Linked DNA regions of Homo sapiens: region 2 is linked to region 1. Evidence: fine-mapped expression QTL. A gene starts in region 1. The other region holds a variant in brackets. All regions are shown on one strand. Distances are between the middles of the regions. Region 1 holds the start of PGRMC2 (progesterone receptor membrane component 2). Region 2 overlaps MFSD8 (major facilitator superfamily domain containing 8).

The links. PIP is the estimated chance that this variant, and not a neighbour inherited with it, causes the effect. A credible set is the group of variants that fine-mapping cannot tell apart.
Region 2: its variant is the best candidate, but not a certain one, in a credible set for the expression of PGRMC2 in whole blood (INTERVAL, PIP 0.55).

Annotation. Positions count from the first base shown.
Region 1 is chr4:128,282,851-128,293,491 of GRCh38, forward strand. PGRMC2 (progesterone receptor membrane component 2) reads right to left here and starts at 4,963. Exons shown (of 3, transcript NM_006320.6): 1 at 4,523-4,963. The coding sequence starts at 4,940. RefSeq lists silencers at 4,603-4,662, 4,843-4,892, 4,903-5,082, 5,403-5,592, 5,964-6,258.
Region 2 is chr4:127,934,789-127,945,429 of GRCh38, forward strand. It overlaps MFSD8 (major facilitator superfamily domain containing 8), which reads right to left. Exons shown (of 12, transcript NM_001371596.2): 4 at 8,964-9,204; 5 at 7,257-7,370; 6 at 5,065-5,209; 7 at 3,995-4,050. Among named protein-coding and RNA genes, the nearest start is that of MFSD8, 25 kb to the right of the region's middle. The variant A/G (reference allele first, on the strand shown) is at 4,334.

The DNA of each region.
Region 1 (10,641 bases):
GAGGAAAAACACTTCAAGGTACATGTGTTCTTTTCCCCAACCTCCTAAATATTAGGCATCTCATGGGGTTCTTCTTACGTGACTTTTTTCTTTCAGTGGAATTTAAAAGGTAAGTTGGAAAAAATATAGCTTTGGTATATGTCAAAGAATACTCCACCTGGAATAAGGGAGCAGCAGTATTGCAAGGTTCAACAACGCAAAATAAACTATCAAAAAGTCAAGTGTATAATTTTTTGCCATTCCAAAAAAATAAAAGCACTGTTTTGGTAAAGTTCCATTGCAGTAATATTAAATAAAATTGTTAAAAATTATACTAGCTGTTTGAGTCTTCAAAACTTATGATTCTGTAAACATGTGAAACTGAATAGACTATGTTGTAATACAATGGGAAGGATTGAAGCTATGAAAATCTGGATTTAATTTTTAGTGTTGCCACCTACTAGATATGTGGCTTTGGGCAATCTCATAGGGCTGTTTGAAAATTAGCGATACTAAGCTCAATAAATGGAGTTTCCTCCTTCTCCTCCTCTGACCTTTAGAATCAGTGTTGTTTTCAACAACTCTCTGGGAAGACAGAAATACTCTAAGAGGTGCCTTGTTAGTGCAGTAGGTGGCACGCCAGTCTCACAATATGAAAATATACAAAGTGCACTGTCCAAAATGGTAGCCATGGTGGGCTCAGCACTTTATATGTGGCTAGTGTTACTAAGGAACTCAATTTTTAATTATATCTAATTTTAATTAATTTACTTTTAATTAGCCACCTGGGGCCACCATTTTGGGCAGTATAACATAAAGCCATAAAAGCATTTTTTTTTTTTTTTTGAGACAGAGTCTCGTTCTGTCATCCAGGCTGGAGTGCAATGGCGAGATCTCAGCTCACTGCAACCTCCACCTCCTAGGTTCAAGTGATTCTCTTGCCTCAGCCTCCCCAGTAGCTGGGATTACAGGCACCCACCATCAAGCTCAGCTAATTTTTTTTTGTATTTTTGTAGAAACAGGGTTTGGCCATGTTGGCCAGGCTGGTCCCGAACTCCTGACCTCAGGTGATCTGCCCGCCTTGGTCTCTCAAAGTGCTGGGATTAAGGCATGAGCCACCGTGCCTGGCCTTTATTTTTTTATTTTTATTTTTTTTTTTTTAGTAGAGATGGGGTTTCACCATGTTGGACAGTCTGGTCTCAAACTCCTGACCTCAAGTGATCCGCTTGCCTCAGCCTCCCAAAGTGCTGGGATTACACGCGTGAGCCACCGTGCCTGGCCGAAAGGCATGTTTTTTTTGAGGCTTTAAATCCTTGGATTTATGGGAACCAGGGAAGAGTATAAAGAAAAACAACAGTAAGATTCTCTACAAGTTTATCACAGGATGCAGTTTACTAGAAATAGTATAGATAAGCTGTGTGGTAATATCCATCTGGATTTATTAGACATACATGTAATCCAAGCCAATTTACCTAAAATACCTAGACCTCAGACTCCCCACCTGTAGAGCAGGAATACTTACCAACTTCACTGAGGAATTATGGAGATAAAAAAATTAATGGATCTGATATTGTGGGTGCTTAACGAATCTGGTTTTCTTTCTCCTCCTGTATTCAGTTTTTTACATGACCAAACTTTCCTCACCTGCTGGCCAAGTGCCTGATCTGTTACTAAATTTAATATTGGCAAATACAGTTAATGCCAACTGTTTGCCAAAATGTGTATACTCCACCAAATTACACTGTCAATATTTAATTAAGAGCCTGAACTTTAAAAATGTATGACTAAAAATAAACACATGTTTAGCATTATGGAAAAATCTCACAAAATTTAATCCTAAAACCATTATTGTGAAATTAGGGTAGATATTGGCTAGGCATAGAAACTAACAATTACTGCTTCTGAATTATTCTGCTACAAAACTGCTTAATTTATGAGGATGAAAATAAAAATTAAAAGCAAAACTGAACTTGTATCTGTTTTATAGCCAGAAATTTGGCTTTAAGATTTTTTGAAAAGTACTACTTATTACATTTTCTATTAATATGCAATATCAACATATTCTAAGCCCATAAAATGATCTGGCTTTCTTTAAGGTTCCTTTCAATAATAAAATATTCAAATATCTGTTATGTTGTTGATCAACTGTAGAATACTAACTGTATATCACTCTTAGGCTGTTCAACAGAACCTAGGAACTGGCAGAAACTAATCTAAAACTGACTTCTCCATTGTAATCTCAAGAGCCTCCCTCAGTGCACATACCATAAAAAAGCAATCTACCACCTATGACTCTTAATTTTTAATTTTTTTTTATACCGAGTCTCTCTCTGTCGCCCAGGCTGGAGTGCAATGGCGCAATCTCGGCTCACTGCAACCCCCACCTCCCGGGTTCCAGCAACTCTCCCTGCCTCCGCCTCCCGAGTAGCTGGGATTACAGGCACCCGCCACCACGTCTAGCTGATTTTCTTGTATTTTTAGTAGAGACGAGGTTTTGTTATATTGGCCAGGCTGGTTTCGAACTCCTGACCTCTGGTGATCCACCCGCCTCGGCCTCCCAAAGCACTGGGATTACAGGCATGAACCACCACGCCTGGCTTTAATTTTTAATTTCTATCACAGAACAAACGTTTGCCACTGGAGGCTGCCAAACTGTTTCTATGACTGTCTCTCTTAGCTATTTTCAGATACTGCCAAGGCATAATGTGTGAGGACTAATACGATTCTTTGTACTAATACTTTGTTTTCTTCAGTGGCAGTTCAGACAGGGTACAAAAGCTGATCTTTTAGCTGGGTAAGGTCTATATTAAAAATTTAAACCTGTACAGGATTTCTAATCACTTAACACATTTTAATACCAATGGGGGAAAAGCTTGAACTAGGTATAAAATGCTGTCTAAATCCTTGATTTAAAAAAAATTTACTTCGCTTGGCCTGTTTAAATACTGTACTTTGGCCCTGTTCTCTTGTCCCACGTGTGCTTAAGTAAACAAAAATGTATTAACCATTTCAGTTGATATAAGTAGGCAGACACCTTGTGTTCACATTTATGTAACCAGAAGCAAAAACTCTGTAAGCTATGTATTTACTTGGTTGGATTAAATGTGTATATATACACAGAAGTACAAACAACTAAGAAATAAATTACATAATTCAACACCAAAAATCTCCTATTTCTTATCCCTATTCCAATGAACAAACTACAAACCAAAGCACTTCTAAAATATCTTCCAGCTATCAAGCACTGAAATCAGAAGTATATATTTTTAAGTGTCAATAAATCTTATACACCTACAGATTAAATTAAGGAGAAAACCAGCTTACTTCCAGACTGCCAACCCTATGACTTTAAGGCTTGGAGGTACTCTCTCCAATAACAGGTCACTTTAGGTCTCTAATTTAATTATTTATTCTTATTGTAGTCACCACTTTTTTTTAAAGCTTAGTATTAATCAGTGCACAACCAGGATGCACAATGTTGCTCAACTGTATGATATACCAACAGGTTCCATGAGTCTGGGGTTTATTAACATAATCCAAAATGTATGCTACAACCACACTGTAAAAAAAGGGCGTCTAAATCAACTACCCTACACAAAGTTCCCTGAAAACAAAGTTCTCTCAAAACAAAGTTCTAAAAATCTTTAACTTGCATAACTGGCACATGGGGGTATAAATCTACAACTCTTCTAAGTTTTTTCTCCTTAGTTCTGCTAAGTGAAAACACAAGTCATTATCAACGTGTACTTGAAAAGAGAAAAAAAAAGAAAAAAGAAACCAGAGACACGCCTGCTGGGTATAGGAGCTCCACCCCCAAAACTCAAGGTGAATATCCTTACCAGTCTTTAATAAGCTCTGCATTCTGGTCTGTTCTCATCCCACATACCTTGTTAATCATGGAAAGCAACTCCGAACTAAAACTGGTTTAAAGAGAGTCCGAGGTGTTGCTTATACGTCTGGACTTCAGAGACTGGAGGGTTGGGACTTTACATGCCCCTAAACGTGGCCTTACGGAGTAATACAGCGAGGGAAAAAAGGAGATCAGTGGCAAAAAAAAAAAAAAAGGGGGCAAGGAAAAGAAAACGGTGAATTACAGAGCCCAAAACTTTAGTTTAGGTCCCAACTTCAGAAATCTCCCTTCCCTGGTGCCCCATCCATCCCAGGAATCAGGAGACTCAAAAAAGGTTAAGGGCCAGCGTTGACCTGTGACAACTAAAACGATTTTGAAAAATCCAGCCAAAGAAACAAAAAAAAAAGGCTGCGAGGAGAAATGGGATGGAAGAAAGATGAATGCTGAGAGCTGGTCTCTGGGGCGCCACCGGGGACCCTGGTTTCGGGGGAAGAACTGGAGGTGCCCGTAGCTGCGGGGGGACGGTGTGTGTGTAGGGGCGGGATGGGCCGTCCCAGGTGCGGCGGCCGAGGCGCGGGGGTCCCGGAGACGAGAAGGCTGGGCAAACTAACCCGGTGCCCAGAGGCCTCCCTGTCCGAAGGGGGTTGTGCTTCAGCTGCAGGGGGTCCTTCCCCTCCCCTTCCAACTCCTCACCCGGGCCGTAGAACTTGCTGCCTTTGGTCACGTCGAAGACTTTCCCATTGACCGCGAGCAGGATGCGCGGGTTGCGGGAGCCGTCGTACTGGCGCAGCTGCTCCAAGCTGAAGTCCCGCTTCTTCATGCGAGGCAGAGAGGTGGCGGGGCTCTCCTCGCCCGCCCCGGCCCCGGCCCCCAGACCCCGCCGCCCCCAGCGCACCCACAGCCGGTAGGCCCCCAGCAGCACCAGAGCCACCAGCGCCACGTTCAGCAGCATTTCCCCGCCCCCCGTCAGAAGCGCCAACGCCGCCGCCGCCCAGCCTCCCCCTTCCGCTGCCGCTCCCGCGTCGCCTGGACTCTCGCTGCCGCCGTCGTTGCTGCTCTCGCTGCCACTCCCCAGGGTGCCTAGCTTCACGTCCCCATCACCAGCCGCCATCACTGCCCGCCAGCGCCTTCCTCCTCCTCCCCGCCCCCTGCCCTCCCCAACCCCACGGCCGGCCCCGCCCATCTGGGGGCCTCTCAGCCAATAACGTGAGAAGAGGGGGCGGGGTCAGGCCGGCTCCTGATTGGGTGTTGACGGGGTAACGTTGTCTCGGATCTCCCGCCCCCTCCCTTCTTTCGCTGGCCGCGCACGCGTGCAACGCCCCGCCCACCTCGCCCCACACTTCCCTGCTCTCACTCCAAGCCTCCGCTAGGTTAAGTAGACGAGCCGGGCGGGTCTGAAGAAAAGATGCTACGACGGCCGCGCGGACGCTCATGGGCGGGGCGAGACCACAGCGCGTGCGCGGGCTCCTGAGCGCCACGCGCTCGCCTTTCGTTCGTAACCCCTGCGGGAGGCACGCCCCGCCCAGTCTCCAGGCTCTGCGCGTGCGCCCTGGAATCGCTTCCCTTCCTAGGCCTGCGTTCGCGTCCGCAAACTCCCGCCTCCTTGCGCTCCCCCCGCCCGGGAGCTTCACGTGCGCCTTGGCGGCCGCGGGGGCAGGTCCGGGCTGGACGCCTGGCGGAGGACGCGGGCAGGTGGCTTGTGGGAGGCTGGGGCATAGTTGAGCTGCAAGGCGCAAACCGATGAGGGGCGTCTGCTTTTCACCAGGGCGCCGTCGCTTTTGTCGGGAAACCGGCAGCGTAGGCGCGCAGACCGGGAAGCGGCAAGAAGATTTGGCCACGAGCTGGGGTCTTCCTGGAACGGAGAGAAAGCACGGAACCCGCACCGGGCTTCTCTGGCATCGGCAGTCTACGTGCTCCTCGCGCTGGCACCGAGCAGCCACTCCCCGCTGGGTTTGGCAAAGGCTGCTCTTGTAGAATTTTAAAGGATTTAGAGTCTCATTATTCCTTGAATCATAACTTCTGCGGCCGTAGGGAAGTGGACAGGTTGAGGTGGTCTTTCTATTCGTCATTCACTCTTATTTGCAGGTTCTGTTTCATGTACTTGGACGTCTTTTAGCCTCTCACACCTTGAAATTCTAGTGTGAAAAAGTGACCTCTGAAGTCTCACGCACTCAACTCGTTTGACGAACTCGTTTGACGTGTTCTCTCTTGCCCTTTGTTGTCTGTTGTCTTGAGTCTCATAGAATAGGTTTGAACCTTTCACTGTCGGTTTTGTAGGAGTCACTGAGGATATTGACGAGGCAAGTGACAGGGTCGACACTCTTGTAGAGAGGCTGTATAGCAACCAGGTGTCTGAAGGATTAGAGGCTGGGGAAAGAGTGGGAAAGCAGTTAGTAGGCTAGGGTATTTGTGCGTGAGGTGAGGAGACTCAGAGCTAGGGGAGACATTAGAGCAGGGGTTGGCAAACATTTTTTGTAAAGGGCCCGATCATATTTTAAGTCTCTGCCTTAACTACTCAGCTCTACCTTGTAACGAGAAAGCAGCCATAGACAATACTTGAATGAGTGTAGCTGTCTTCAGTAAAACTATGGACATTGAATTTTTAATATAATTTCAGGTATGAAATATTCTTTTGATTTTTAAGAAAATCATTGAAATATGTAAATTTTTTTTTTTTTAGTTCTGGAGAGGTGCAAAAACAACTTATAAGCCATATTGCTGAGCCCTGCATTAGAGGTACCTGAGGGAGAGCGACACAATTGGTAGTAAATGACCATATACTCTATCCTTCAATATGGAACACTTTTGGAAGTAAAGTAGGGCATTAATAATTATAGCCAGAGACCAGGAGTTATATCAGTTTTATCCCAGGCAAACCTAAAGGAATAGTCACCTTAAGGTTAAGGGTTAGGAGAAGTCAAAATTGCTTTAGGACTTGGTAACAGAAAATGGGAGGTGCCAGTGATGGAAATAGGAAGATAAAGAAGAAACTGGTTTTGAGGAGAAGATAGCTGTAGCAGTCCCAAGAGCTGTATACAGTTGAGACAACATTGATAGGAAGGAAGAAAGCACCCCAGAAGCAGGCCACTCCTTATATCTTATTGACCAGAACTGGGCTATTAGCTGTCCCTAAAGCAGTAACAGACAAGGAGCATGGGACATCCATGATTGCCTAGTGTTTATCTGGCTTTTTTAATTCTTATTCAGGACTGTGTTGAGCATTGCTGGACATTTACCATCTCTGGTTCCTTCCAGCTAAATGTCAGTACCACACCTCAGGCATTGTGACACCGTAAATCAACCGTTTTTCCCTCCCACCCCCCAGAGGTGTGGTACTGGTTGAGAACCAGTAGCTTAGACCCTCAGGATTTACCTTGGGGCTGAATTAGTGTGTGTAGGTTTCTTTTCCAGTTGGTTTGGAGGGAAGAGAGGAATTGGACAGTATTAAAGTTCTGCTGTCAAGGAAGTGGGCTGGGGAATGTTGGGTAGCTAACCAACATTGGCTGCCACGTGAAGTAAAAAAGTTTTCCTTTATATCCTTGATAAAATAGTGTCTCGACTTCTTCACACTTGAAGCCTTCCCAAAACCCCAGCTTTTTTGATTCTCATTGTAAGCCCCTTGAACTGGACTAGTTGGAAGTTCTTATTTTCCACCCTAAGTAACAAGCTCTTGTCCCAATAGGATACTCTTGCTTTGAGTACTGCAATAACTTTCCAATTGGTGACTTGCCGTCAGTCTTTTCCTATTTCATTCCTACACGAAGAGACTAGAACTGTGTTCTGATTTCCTTTGCTCAGACACCAATCTCCAGGGGTGCTCTGTAATTTGAAGAGGACAACTCAGAAAGCACTCAAGGGCCTCCATAAGTCCCTGAGTGGCTTCCCTGCCTTCCCGTTCCCCAGCAAACAATCCCTTGGATACCCTCTATTAAATGATACGTTTCCCCTTACAATACCTAGTCCCTTGCCCCATATATGCTATGTGTATTGCACAGTCTAGGACTTGACTCATGCTGTTTCCTCACGGAGCATGCCCTTCTTATTTCTAACCATACAAATTCCATGACCTATCCATTCTTTCAATTCTACTTCCACCTGAGGCCTCTATCAGCCCACATTAACCTACCTTCTTTGAATTTCTGTGTGTTCCTTACCTGTACCACCCATTTTGGCCTTTTATTTTATGCTCTTCTTGACTATTCTGTTATTGAAACTGTCCTTTAGATCCCAAGATTTCTACTTTTTCCCTGCGGATGCTTTTTTATTTTTTTTATTTTTGACTTCTTTCTACCCTCCTTTTCCTCTTACATCCCTGCTTTGCCTAGAGGACATCTACAAGAATCGTCATGTACATTCTTTTCTCCTGTTGTTAGCTTTTTTCCCCTGACACTTCATCTATTTACTGATTTACTTGTAAATCTCTGGAAGATATTAGTACTAGCCACCAAATATTTCTATTTCTTTTTCCACACACGTAGATTTGGATTTCCCTACTCCTTTTACCTCAAGAATGGCCAATGAAATGTGATTGGAAGTGACTTGTGTCATTTCCAAATAAAAGCTTTAAGAGCCTGTGGACATTTATCCTGCGCTGTTTCTTCCTGCCAACAGTGATGAAATATTTTAATTATCTATTGTCCCATGACAAAGCACCTTAAATCTTAATGGTTTAAAACAGTCACCATTTTATTATGTGTAACAGTTTTGTGGGTTGACTAGGCTCATGGGCAGTTGTCTAATCTTGCTCAGGGTCTCTCATGTGGTTCCAGCCTGGTATTGTTTGGGGCTGGAGTTTTTGGAGGCTCAACTAGGTTGCTAGAGTAGCTGAGCTTTTCTATTTACCCATGCCGTTCCAAAGACTCTCTGATTCACATGGCTTCTTCAGCAGAGTAGCCTGACTTCTTTCTTGCATGGTGGCTTAGGATTCTCAAATGCAATAAAAGCAAAAACTTCGAGGTTTTGTAAGTCTTAGGTCTGGAAATGACATGTTGTATTGGTAAAAGCAGTTACAGGGCCAGCTCAATTTTAAGGGGAGAGGAAATAAACACTTGATAGGGGTGGAGGGAGAGTGACAAAGAATTTGTGGCCATCTTTATTACAAAAATTTTTGTCAACCACAGAGTTACAGGAAAATGTGGCCATCTTTAATCACTACTCCAACGATGTTTCAAATTGAGTGGGCTTCCATCAGCCAGGGTCTCGGAGACAGGACAAAGTGGAAAACAGCTCCCAAATAACATACCTAGGTATATGAATAAGAAATACATCTCTGCTGTCCTGAGTCACTTAGCTATTTGGAGTTGTTTGGTATCAACTTTTGCATACTAATATAAAAATTGGTACTGGAAATAGGGTGGTGCTATAACAAAAATCTAAAATATGAGTCACTGACATATATAATAATTGAGTTAGAAATACTAGTGGTTGGTTGTTAGGCAGCATCCAGCTTTGACTCACTTATGCATTTCCCAGTGAACCTAGCTCAGAAGTTTGCACCATGATATTCAATAAATAATTCTTAAATAAGAGAGATTGTTTCTTGTAATTTTTCCCTATTTTAGGGAAAAACTTTTTTTTTTTTTCCATATCACATTTTTCTTGAAACATTGGAGTGCCACGAACATATCATTTGATGCTCTGTTTGAGTGCCACCAGTGAGTTTCCCGATGTTTAAGTTTGGCTCGTGGGCAGCCCACCTTCTTCCTCTCCACTTTCTCTTGGGAGCCATCCTGCTCATGGAAAGTGTGCTTTCTCCTCTGCTACCTCACACAAGTTTCAAAGGAGCTTGCTCCTGCCAGGGGAGGCTTGGGGTAAGCCAAACAGCATCAGCTCCCCGGGGGAAGGGAAATTTCAGGTTTGGAGCTAAGTTCACTTCCAGGGAGTGACAAAGCCTGTTTGAACTTTAATTCACAGAGTAAAAGAGTTCAATGTTGGCCATTAATGATTTGGACTTTAACATGAAGTTGGTACTGATTACTTTGGGCCATAATTTAGAAGGACAGAGTGATTTAATCTCTGAACTTTTAATTTCTCTCTGGAAAATTAATACTGGGAGAGGGTTAAAATCAAATTGAGAACATCTTGTTGGTTCTTAGTTATTAAAGTATTTGATCACATTTTAGAAATTCTGATAACTTTGGGCAAGCTGACAGGACATAGTTTGAGATGGCGATAGAACATATTGTGAATTACAGCCTTGGATACAGAATAGCATTGGAACTGATTTAATCGATAAATTGTTCTGACCCATTCAGGGCATTTTGGGGACAGACTCTACAGTTTACTAGTGGCCCCAGGACATCCTGCAAAAGAGGTGAAATCAGTATTGGAGAAGTGGTCTCATGAAGATGGGAGCACGACTACTACAATTGACTGCTGACTTCTCACCCAAGGAAGTAACTGTATCCCAGCCTAATCTCAGTGGATAAGCCCACAGGGTTAAGGTAATGGTCTTCATACTTTTGCTGACACACCCCTAAAATAGTTTTTAAGTTGACATGTAAAATATTTTGACCTTAGTGGCAAAACATGTAATTTTTTGCGTAATATAAATGTGAATATTTTAAAATAAAAAGGGTTATGTTACCTAAAATGCAATCTAAATGAAATCTAAATCCATAGAAAAGGAATACTCACCATCATTTATTTTCACAGAAATTTTACATTATGCCTTTTCCTATTTGAATTTGTATTTTCATTCTACTTCCCTAACATAATTTTATTTTAATGTATTTTGTGCCCAAATATATTTTATTGCTTACTCTATTATTCTTTTCCACAATAATAAGTTGTTTATAGGCTGGGCATGGTGG
Region 2 (10,641 bases), 350 kb before region 1:
CCTCGTGATCTGCCCGCCTCGGCCTCCCAAAGTGCTGGGATTACAGGTGTGAGCCACCACGCCCAGCCTATGCCAGGTATTAATACATAAAATATTACAAAAATATGTTTATTTATGCTATCTTAAATTGTGTGTAGTGTCAGTTGTTGTTAGTGGGTGGGTGGGGGGGCTTTCCTAAGATGCAGTAAGTTTCTATGATTTTTTTCATAATAATGCCTGCTTTTCTATCTCAGGATTCTTGAGAAGGAGTTCCTCCTCCAACAATAAGTAGATTTGGAAATAGTCTGCTATACTTAAAGGGAATTAAGCACCTTGGATGCTCAACATAGCCTTATGACCTTCCTTTGTAATCACACAAAGAGAACTGGCCACCTTTGTCCAGAACCTTTGCCAGGGGTAGGCCCTGATGGTTGTGGCTCTTGTACTATTTTGGATAGACCTCTCTGATTCTTAATCACCACCTAGAAGTCAGTCTTTACTCCTTCAAGTCAGTATCAATATTGCCCCAAGTCAGACTGGAGTTTGCTTCATAATATGTGGTTAGTTTCCTATAGCTTCTACTCAGTGTTGGCTTCAGTGGGGTATCTCAGAAATGTTGCATCCTAGACTATGGGGATTGACTAGATATCCTAATTACACATTTTTTAAAAGACTACATTAGTATATGGATTCAAATTCTATGCAATTAGAAATTATAATCCTGTCTCATAATAACCTCTTTAAATTTGAATAGCTTTAAATTAAAACAATTATGGAAGTTTTTACCAGACATATTTTATGCAAACATTTATTGAAATTTAAAAATTTTATTTTATAAAAATTATTTTGAAGTAACTAGAAATCTCATAAAAGAAAACACTACATCTTCTCTAAACTCATTCCCATTTGTACTTTAGAACAGTGCTGCCCAACAGAACTGTGACATGACGGAAATGTTATTTATCTATGCTAATACAGTGGCCACTAGCCACATATACCCATTATTGAGCACTTGAAATGTGGCTAGTATGACAGAAAATAATTTCTTAAATTTACTTTATTTAAATAGCCACATGTGGCTAATGGCTACTATATTGGGCAGCATAGCTCTCAATCTTTGCTGCACAAAGTGTGATTTGTAGACCAGAAGCATCACATCACATGGTAGTTTGTTGTAAATGTAGATGCTCAGCATCTCACTAGGGTTGCCAGATTTAGTAAATATACAGGAGACCCAGTTAAATTTAAATTTCAGATAAACAATAAGTGTTAATATAAATATGTTCTGTGCCATATTTGAAAGTTAAGTATAAGAATGTTCCATGAAGTATTTGGATTGTATTTATACTTTTTTTTTTTCTTTTTGAGACAGAGCCTCACTCTGTCACCCAGGCTGGAGTACGTGGCGTGATATCGGCTCACTGCAACTTCTGCCTCCCAGGTTCAAGCGATTCTCCTGCCTCAGCCTCATGAGTAGCTGGGATTACAGGCGCCTGCCATCACACCCAGCTAATATTTATATTTTTAGCAGAGACAGGGTTTCACCATGTTGGCCAAGGGTGGTCTTGAACTCCTGACCTCAGGTGATCCACCTGCTTTGGCCTCCCAAAGTGCTGGGATTACAGGCATGAGCCACTGTGCCCAGCTGGATTGTATTAATACTAAAAGTTATTTGTTTCCAGGTGCAGTGGCTCACACCTGTAATCCTAGCACTTTGGGAGGCCCAGGGAGGCAGATCACTTGAGTCCAGGAGTTTAAGGCCAGCCTGGACAATATGGCAAGATCCTGTCTCTATTAAAGAAAAAAAAACCAACGTTATTTGTTGTTTATTGAAATCCAAATTTAACTGGGTGGGACATATTTATATTAAAACATTATTAAAATTTAATTGGGCATTCTGTGTTTTATTTTTTATTATAAATTATATATTTTTATATTTCTTTATTAACTCCCCTATTCTGAGAAGCAACATCCTGTGTTTTACAGGCAACCCTATTAAGTATCACCCTAAGCCTAATGAATCAGAATTTGCATCTTAACAAGGTTCCCAGGTGATTTCTAAGCACATTAAAGTAAATGAAGCACTGATGTATATCATTATCCCCTTCCAAGTTCTGAAATACTGATTTTTACATATCTTCCCTTTGTCATACCTCTACCTCACCCTCTTAACTTCCTCCGTCACTTTACCTGATAGCTCCTTGAAGTTAGCATCCTATTTTTTACCTTTGAAAAAAGGAGTTTATACGCACTGCTGGCACTTCACCTCTCATTCTTTGTGTTTTATTTTGAAAGTTTTCAAACATATTCTCACATATTCATTCCTCAGATTCAACAATCTTTTGCCACACTTGAATCATCATGCCATCCTTTCTCTCACTCCCTTTCTGCTGCCATAGTGTGTTTCACTGGGTGACTCATAAATTTTTATCTCTAGCTTTTATTTCTACTGTCAAAATTACAAATGCCTGTGGGATTTTTTAGTTGTTCTAGAGTAACAGCATATTCAGCTTGATCCAAATTGAAATCATCTTCTCTTTTCATCTAACCTCCCTTCCTAAATTCTTGTTCTCTCTCATTCTTCCAGGTGATCTAGAATCAAAACCTGGCAGCAATGTTGGCTTTCTCTAATCCTTAATATTCTCTATCCAAATCTCTATCTTGATTCCTCTTTCAACAACTCCTACTTATCCCTTCTCCATTCTCAGTCACTGCCCTACTTCAGGCCTAGTCAAAATTAATACTTTTACACTGTCTTCCTGAGTCATCCACACAATGTTCTCTTAAAAAGAAAAACACAAATATTGTACCTATGAAAAGCTTAATAAAGAAATTGTTTAAATTTGTTACTGGCATTGTATTTTTTTCACATTTGATACAGTTTCTTTTACTGGCTTTTCAGTAATGAAATTGTTACCAATGAGATATTACCAGTGAGATATAACCAATCTGGATTAGCCTCTGCATGGAATCAATGTCAAACTTCTCCTAGTTCAAAAACTTACTGTAGCTCCTCACCACTCTGCTCTACTACATTTATCTTCCACTATTTCTTTTGTGAAAATTAAATAAAAGAGCTATGAAAGTACCTGGTAAAATAGTAAAATAATACTATGTCTTTTCCACAACTTTATGAACTACTGAGGGCCAGGATCAGTCCTTGCATTCTTTCCGCAAGGAGGATATAATTAGTACCTAAATAACAGGTTTTTTTTTGGTAAAATATAGCTACTTACTGGGTTCTCTGGCTTATATGAATCAGAGAAGATCTAAAAGATGAAAATGTATATTTCTAAAGTATACCAAAACAACAAAAATAAAAAGGCAAAACCATACCCATTTTCATACTTAAGATAATAAAGAACTGCTTTAAATAGACATATTTATTTGGTAGTAAAGATATGGAAATCATTGCAAATATCTCAAAGGCTTTAGGATACTGGCTCTCTGAAAATAAGACAAAGCGATTTTTTACAATGTTTGTAACCTTGTCAATCATGACCACCAAATAACCAATATGGGTATGCCTCTTTAAAAAAAATCAATTTGCTCACGCCTGTAATCCCAGCACTTTGGGAGGCCGAGGCGGGTGGATCACAAGGTCAGGAGATCGAGACCATCCTGGCTAACATGGTGAAACCCCATCTCTACTAAAAATACAAAAAATTAGCCAGGCGTGGCGGCATGCGCCTGTAGTCCCAGCTACTCAGGAGGCTGAGGCAGGAGGATGGCATGAACCCCGGAGGCAGAGCTTGCAGTGAGCAGAGATCGCACCACTGCACTCCAGCCTGGGCGACAGAGCGAAACTCTGTCTCAAAAAAAAAAAAATAAATAAATAAATAAATAAATAAATAAATAAATAAATAAATTTAGGTCACTTTCAGCTTTGAAGATCTTCCCCAATCACCCACTGTGTTGTCCTCAGAAGCAAAATCGAAGTAAATACCAAACAAACAGAATCATTAGAAACACTTTGATAATGTTATATTAATTCAGCCAAATGGGTTAAAAGTACCTTCTTCAAAATTAATACTTTTACACTGTCTTCCTGAGTCATCCACACGATGTTCTCTTAAAAAGAAAAACACAAATATTGTACCTATAAAATGCTTAATAGAGAAGTTGTTTAAATTTATTATCGGCATTGTATTTTTTTTCACATTCTAATATAGTTTCTTTTATTGGTTTTTCAGTAATAAAACTGTTACCAATGAGATATAACCAATAAACTTAAGACAGAAGTTACAATTCTTATCAAATTATCATAAACAGGTAAAATGAAAAAAATCCAACTCATCCTAAAGCATACATGATCTACTTTAGTATTTGAAGTTTTACAGTGATTATAAACATT[A/G]GTAATAAATGTTTTTAGACTATTGAATAAAGCACTCTAAATAAAACATAATTTTAAAAAATTTTTTCGAATATATAAAAGATAAGAGATATACATTACTAGTAACTTTTATATTTAAGACTGATACAAATCCATTAATCTATTTAAAATGTTACTTCCATGCCTTTCCCCTACTTAGCAACATGTAGTTAGTAAATCAAGACCAAACCTTGAGGCCGGGCACAGCCTCACATGGCCTCATGCCTGTAATCCCAGCACTTTGGGAGGCCGAGGTGGGCAGATCACTTTGAGGTCAGGAGTTCAAGATCAGCCTGGCCAACATGGTGAAACAAAAATTAGCTGGATGTGTTGGCATGCACCTGTAGCCCCAGCTACTCGGGAAGCTGAGGTATGAGAATCCTTGAATCCGGGAGATGGAGGTTGCATTGAGCCGAGATAGTGCCACTGCCCTCCAGTCTGAGCAACAGAGTAAGATCTTGTCTCAAAAAAAAAAAAAAAAAAAAAAAAAAAACTTTGAATCTTCAAAGACCTTCCTTTTCTGTTCTCATTTATCAGGTTGTCTTTTGGTTGCCAGTATTACATGCTTTAGTACTACCTGACCAAAAAATATAAACAAACTATAGACATAAAAAACTACGTACACTTCATAAGGATAATTATCTTCCAACAATTACAAAGCTCATTAAATTTCACAATCTACAAAAATAGTTTTATCATTTCTATCTAATTACCTTAGTATGGCAAGGATCAGAATAATATTTAAAATTCCCAGGAAGGCGCTAAGTAAAACTGGTGTTGTATACATGTTTATCTGCAGTTTAATCACATCCCATGTCACACCTTTTTCTCCAAGGAATGTAAAACAAGTCTGAAAAACTTATTAAGATAAAATTTTCACAGATGAATTATTATATGAGAAGCATAGGATAAAAAAATGAAAAAGACATTTACAACAGAATTGGGAACAATGTTATGGAATCATCCTTCTATATCATGCATTCTCAACAGATGGAATTGGTTCTTGATGGGGGGTCAAAAAATTTCCTCTTTTTATGTATAAAGCAGGTATGTACAGATATACATATGGTACATAAAAGATATATGACACATCTGTGGCACTAAAATTTTATGGGGTAAAGAGAGTAGGAAAAAAATACCGAAAAAGGCTCCTTAGGGAGACAATAATGAAAAAAAGGTTGTGAAACACTGATTTACATGCATTCACAAGGAATTGTATCTTACATAACTTCTCAGTTTTTTACAAAACATCTCCATAGGCAATTTAAATTATACAATTTCTTCCAAAAATTAATTATAAAGGTTTAATCAGCTTCATTATAAGAATGAAAATATCATATTTTAGACCAGATATCTTAAATATTATTCTGTATATGGTATATATATATATATATATATATGTGTGTGTGTGTATATATTTATTATCATTTGACCATAGTATTATATACAAGTAAAATGAAAAAAAAAAATTATTTCATCCAAAAGCATACATAATCCACCTTAGTATTTGAAGTTTTTTTTAGTGATTTTAAACATTAGTTAGAAGTGTTTTTGGACTGCTGGATAAAGCACTCTAAAGAAATATGAAGTGGCAAAATCTAATTTGGATCTGTGGCAAAAACTCAATTGGAAGAGTACTGGTTTGCTCTTCTGATTTAGATTCAATATGTGGCTCTATAGTAATTCACATATAACTCTAGGGTGAGGACTAAAATATTGCACCTACCGTACTTAGAACAGTGACTAGCATACAGTAAGCACACAATAAATGTTAGTGCTTGTTGAGGGCTTATTATTGGAAAAGTCATCGAAGCTTTTCAGGCTTACATTTACTCATCTATAATGCAAAATTTTTAAATGACATAATCTTTAAAATGCTTTTAAGGTGGTAAAAAATATTTACTAAGAACATAAGTCTATACCAGGTATTATGCTAGATACTGAGGGTAGACTGGTAAATAAAGACTCAAACCATGTCCTCATGTACTTTACAATATAGTATTCAAGTTCAATTATTCTACATTTGTGCTTGTATTTGTTTCAGGGTACAAAACTGAAATAGTAGATTTTGGTGAACAGTGAATTAGATTCCCTTCTGTTGAGCCTTTTCTTTTTGGCTAAATAGAGGAACGTAATGGAAACTGGGGGTGGGAGATGGGGTGTTAATGATGAAGTAAGCTGAGTTGGATTCAAACTGATAATATTCATAACTTCAATATTCAAAATATGGACCAATTATATGGTTTTTCAATATTATTCTAGGCATGAAAATGACTGATTCTTTACTCAGCAGAAAATTAATTTGCCTTGAGGAAATACTAAATCTCATTAATTTTTTTTGAGACAGAGTCTCGCGCTTGTTGCCCAAGCTGGAGTGCAATGATGTGATCTCAGCTCACTGCAACCTCTGCCTCCGAGTTCAAGCGATTCCCCTGCCTCAGCCTCCCAAGTAGCTGGGATTACAGGTGCCCGCCACCACACCTGGCTAATTTTTGTATTTTTAGTAGAGATGGGGTTTCACCATGTTGGCCAGGCTGGTCTCAAACTCCTGACCTCAGGTGATCTGCCTTCCACAGACCCCCAAAGTGCTGAGATTACAGGTGTGGACCACCACGCATGGCCTCACTAATTTTTTTAACACTCAGCAAAAGGGTGACCTTGGACAATTTACTTAGATTCTCTATGCACTGGCACTCTCAACTATAAAAGGGGACTAATAGCACTTAATTTAGTGGATTGGCATCAAGATAAAATGAGTGTAGCCTCATTCCTGGATTAAAAAAAAAATTAGCTTTCCTCCCTTTCCCTTCAGCTATGAGTTTTTATACTTGGGTTACACTGAATATTTAAGCCTCAAAAGTTTTCCCAATTCAAATTCAAGTAATGACATGTGAAGAACACCTACCTGGACCTAGAATAAAACCTAATGCTTGACACATGCTTATGTTTGCCATGGAACTTGTTCTTTCCTGAAGGGAAGTAGCACCAGCAGTATATGATCTAACAACTGCTACATTTCCTTAAAAACAAGACACAATAATCCAAAGTAAAAGAAAGTATCATTCAGCTTATAAAATTCAATCCAATTTGACTTTATACAGAAGAAGAAATCTTGGTCAACAGTACAGTCACTGCTTCCTCTTTATGATCACACAAAGCATGTAAGGTATTTTTATTAAGCAAATGCATCAATTAATGGACCATACTAGTTTTGGTAATATGAAAACAGTTAAAGATATCAATGAGTGAAAAAATGGTATCATAAGAAAACCAAGCCGGGCACAGTGGCTCACATCTGTAACCCCAGCACTTTCAGAGGTTGAGGTAGGTGGATCATTTTGAGGTCAGGAGTTCAAGACCAGCCTGGCCAACACGGTGAAACCCCGTCTCTATTAAAAATTCAAAAATTATCCACCTGTAGTCCCAACTACTCAGGAGGCTGAGGCAGAAGAACTGCTTGAACCCAGGATGCTGAGGTTGCAATGAGCCAAGATCACGCCACTGCACTCTAGCCTGGGCAACAGTGAAAAAAAAAAAAAAAGAATATCAAACTTACTTAGTACTAAAAAAGCACTGAGTGAATGGCATACCATTGATTACTACAACTGTTTTTAAAAGAAAAGTATTACAATATTACAAACTCTGTATGCATAGACATGTAATATAAGAAACAGAAAAAAATGCACTAACAATTTTACTGAAAATTTTCATTGAGTACATTACATTCAAGAGACTCTGTTAGGGGGCATAGGATATTTTTAAAGTATCATTAATTCTTTCTAATTGCAAAAAGTTTAGGTTGGGAATGGTGGCTCATGCCTGTAATCCCAGCACTTTGGGAGGCCGAGGCGAGTGGATCACGAGGTCAGGAGTTCAAGACCAGCCTGGCCAAGATGGTGAAACTGCGTCTCTACTAAAAATACAAAAATTAGCCAGGTGCAGTGGCAGACGCCTGTAATCCCAGCTACTCGGGAGGCTGAGGCAGGAGAATTGCTTGAACCCAGGCAGGTAGAGGATGCAGTGAGCCAAGATTGCGCCACTGCATTCCAGTCTGGGTGACAGAGTAAGACTCCGTTTCAAAAAAAAAAAAAAATTATTATCTGGTTAGTGAGAAAGGATAGAAACAGTACAATACTATAAGCAAGTGCCAGAGACATGTCAGAGAAGAAAAAAATCTCTCAAGGGGCAGGGTAGCCCAAGATGGCTTTGTGGAAAATGTGGAGCTTGAATTGGATCTATTTTTGTTTTGGGTTTTTTTTTTTTTAGATGGAGGTCTCCCTATGTTACCCAGGCTGGCCTCGAACTCCTGGGCTCAAGAGATTCTGCTACCTCAGTCTCCTGAGTAGCTGGTATTATAGGCACGTGCCACCACACCTGGTTTAAACTGAATCTTGAAGGATGAAGAATGATGAGAACAGAAGAGAAACTATAGGTAATGAGAACATCATGAGCAAAGGCAAAATGATAAGAAAAATATTTGTTTACAATGAGAAACATGTATGTTGAACTGTGAAATATGAGTTTAAAAGGGGATGAGACCAGTTAAAAGTGAGCCATAAATGTCAGAATGAATGTGAATATGACACAACCAAACATATACATACAACCTTACCTGCTCCAATTCCCAACAATCCACGAGCAACCAGCATGTAGTATTTATTATGAGAAGCTGGGATGTGGAGATATGCATAGAGGCAGTTGGCTGCCACGGAAATCAAGATGGAGACAATAAGAGGCTCTTTTCTTGGTCTATAATTAGACCATAAACCAAATATAGGTGAAGCTACCATTTGGCCAAGACTATATGAAGCAATAACCCAGCCCAAAAAACTTGTATCAGCTGTCGGATCAATCTGCAGAAAAAGGTACAGTGCTTTAAGAATTGTTATCCAAGAAAAGTTTAAAACTAAATACATTTGTCATACCATGTAAGATTTCCTATCAAAAAATAAAAACAATTCTAACGTATAAGTTTTATAACACTATTACTTATAGTAAGGGATTCAAACTTCTGACAATACAATTAAATGTGCTAACAATAGACTGTACACAAGGGAAAAATGCTTGGGAGGCTCATTTTTAAGAATGACTGGAAATTTTTGGTTCATATAAACCTTGGTAAGAAGATAATCACACACACTATATACGCATATAGCAATAACATCATGAAAAATAATATAAGCTATTCTTTAATTCTTGTAAATAGAATTCTTTAGACTTATGCTACCCTATACGTTAAACAGCCATTAGCGCTGTAAATCATTTTTTTTAAAAAAACTAGGCACAAGAGTCAAATGCATAAAGAAGATAATAAAAACACAAAAGATGATAGACAATTATCTCAATAAACCTGTTATAAATTCTTCCGTTCTATATAGACCACTCAGTATTCTACCACTTTAAAAGGGTTTACATATCATGATGAACTTAAGGGGAGAACCAAATGACTACAACTCAGAAAATAAAATACTTTCAGAAAAATAGAAAATGTTAGCTTAGAAAAGGCACTATTGTTTATTTTTATTTTTATTTTTTTTTTGAGACAGGGTCTCACTCTGACATCCAGGCTGGAGCGCAGTGGTCCGATCACGGCTCAGTGCAGCCTCGACCTTTGAGGCCCAAGTGATCCTCCTGCCTCAGCCTCTTGAGTAGCCAGGACTACAGGTATGCACCACCATGCCCACCTAATTTTTTTATTTTTGTAGAGACAGGGTCTCCCTATGTTGCCCAGGCTGGTCTTGAACTTCCCGCCTCCAACTCTCAAAGCAATCCTCCTGCCGCGGGAGGGAGGAATTCTCCCACCTTGGCCTCCCAAAATATTGGGATTAGTGGCATGAGCCACCGCACTCAGCCAGATTACTTTTTTTCATATGTGGTAGGCTAAGCCAGGCGAAGTGGCCCATGCCTGTAATCTCAGCTACTCAGCAGTCTAGAGTAGAAGGATCCCTTGAGCCCAGGAGTTGGAGGCTGTAACACACTATGACTGTACCTGTGAAAAGCCACTGCACTCCAGTCTGGGCAACATAGGAAGATTCTATCTCTAATCTTCCTATTTAATGGCTTTTATTAAATTTTAGGAAATAAATTTAAACAAATATAGATAAGTGGTAGAACAATTTAATAAGGAAAACTATGACCTTTTGTTCCCTAAAGATATTTATTTATTTATTTTATTTTATTTATTTATTTACTTTTGAGACGGAGTTTTGATCTTGTTGCCCAGGCTGGGGTGCAATGGTGCGATCTCAGGTCACTACAACCTCTACCTCCCAGGTTCAAGCGATTCTCCT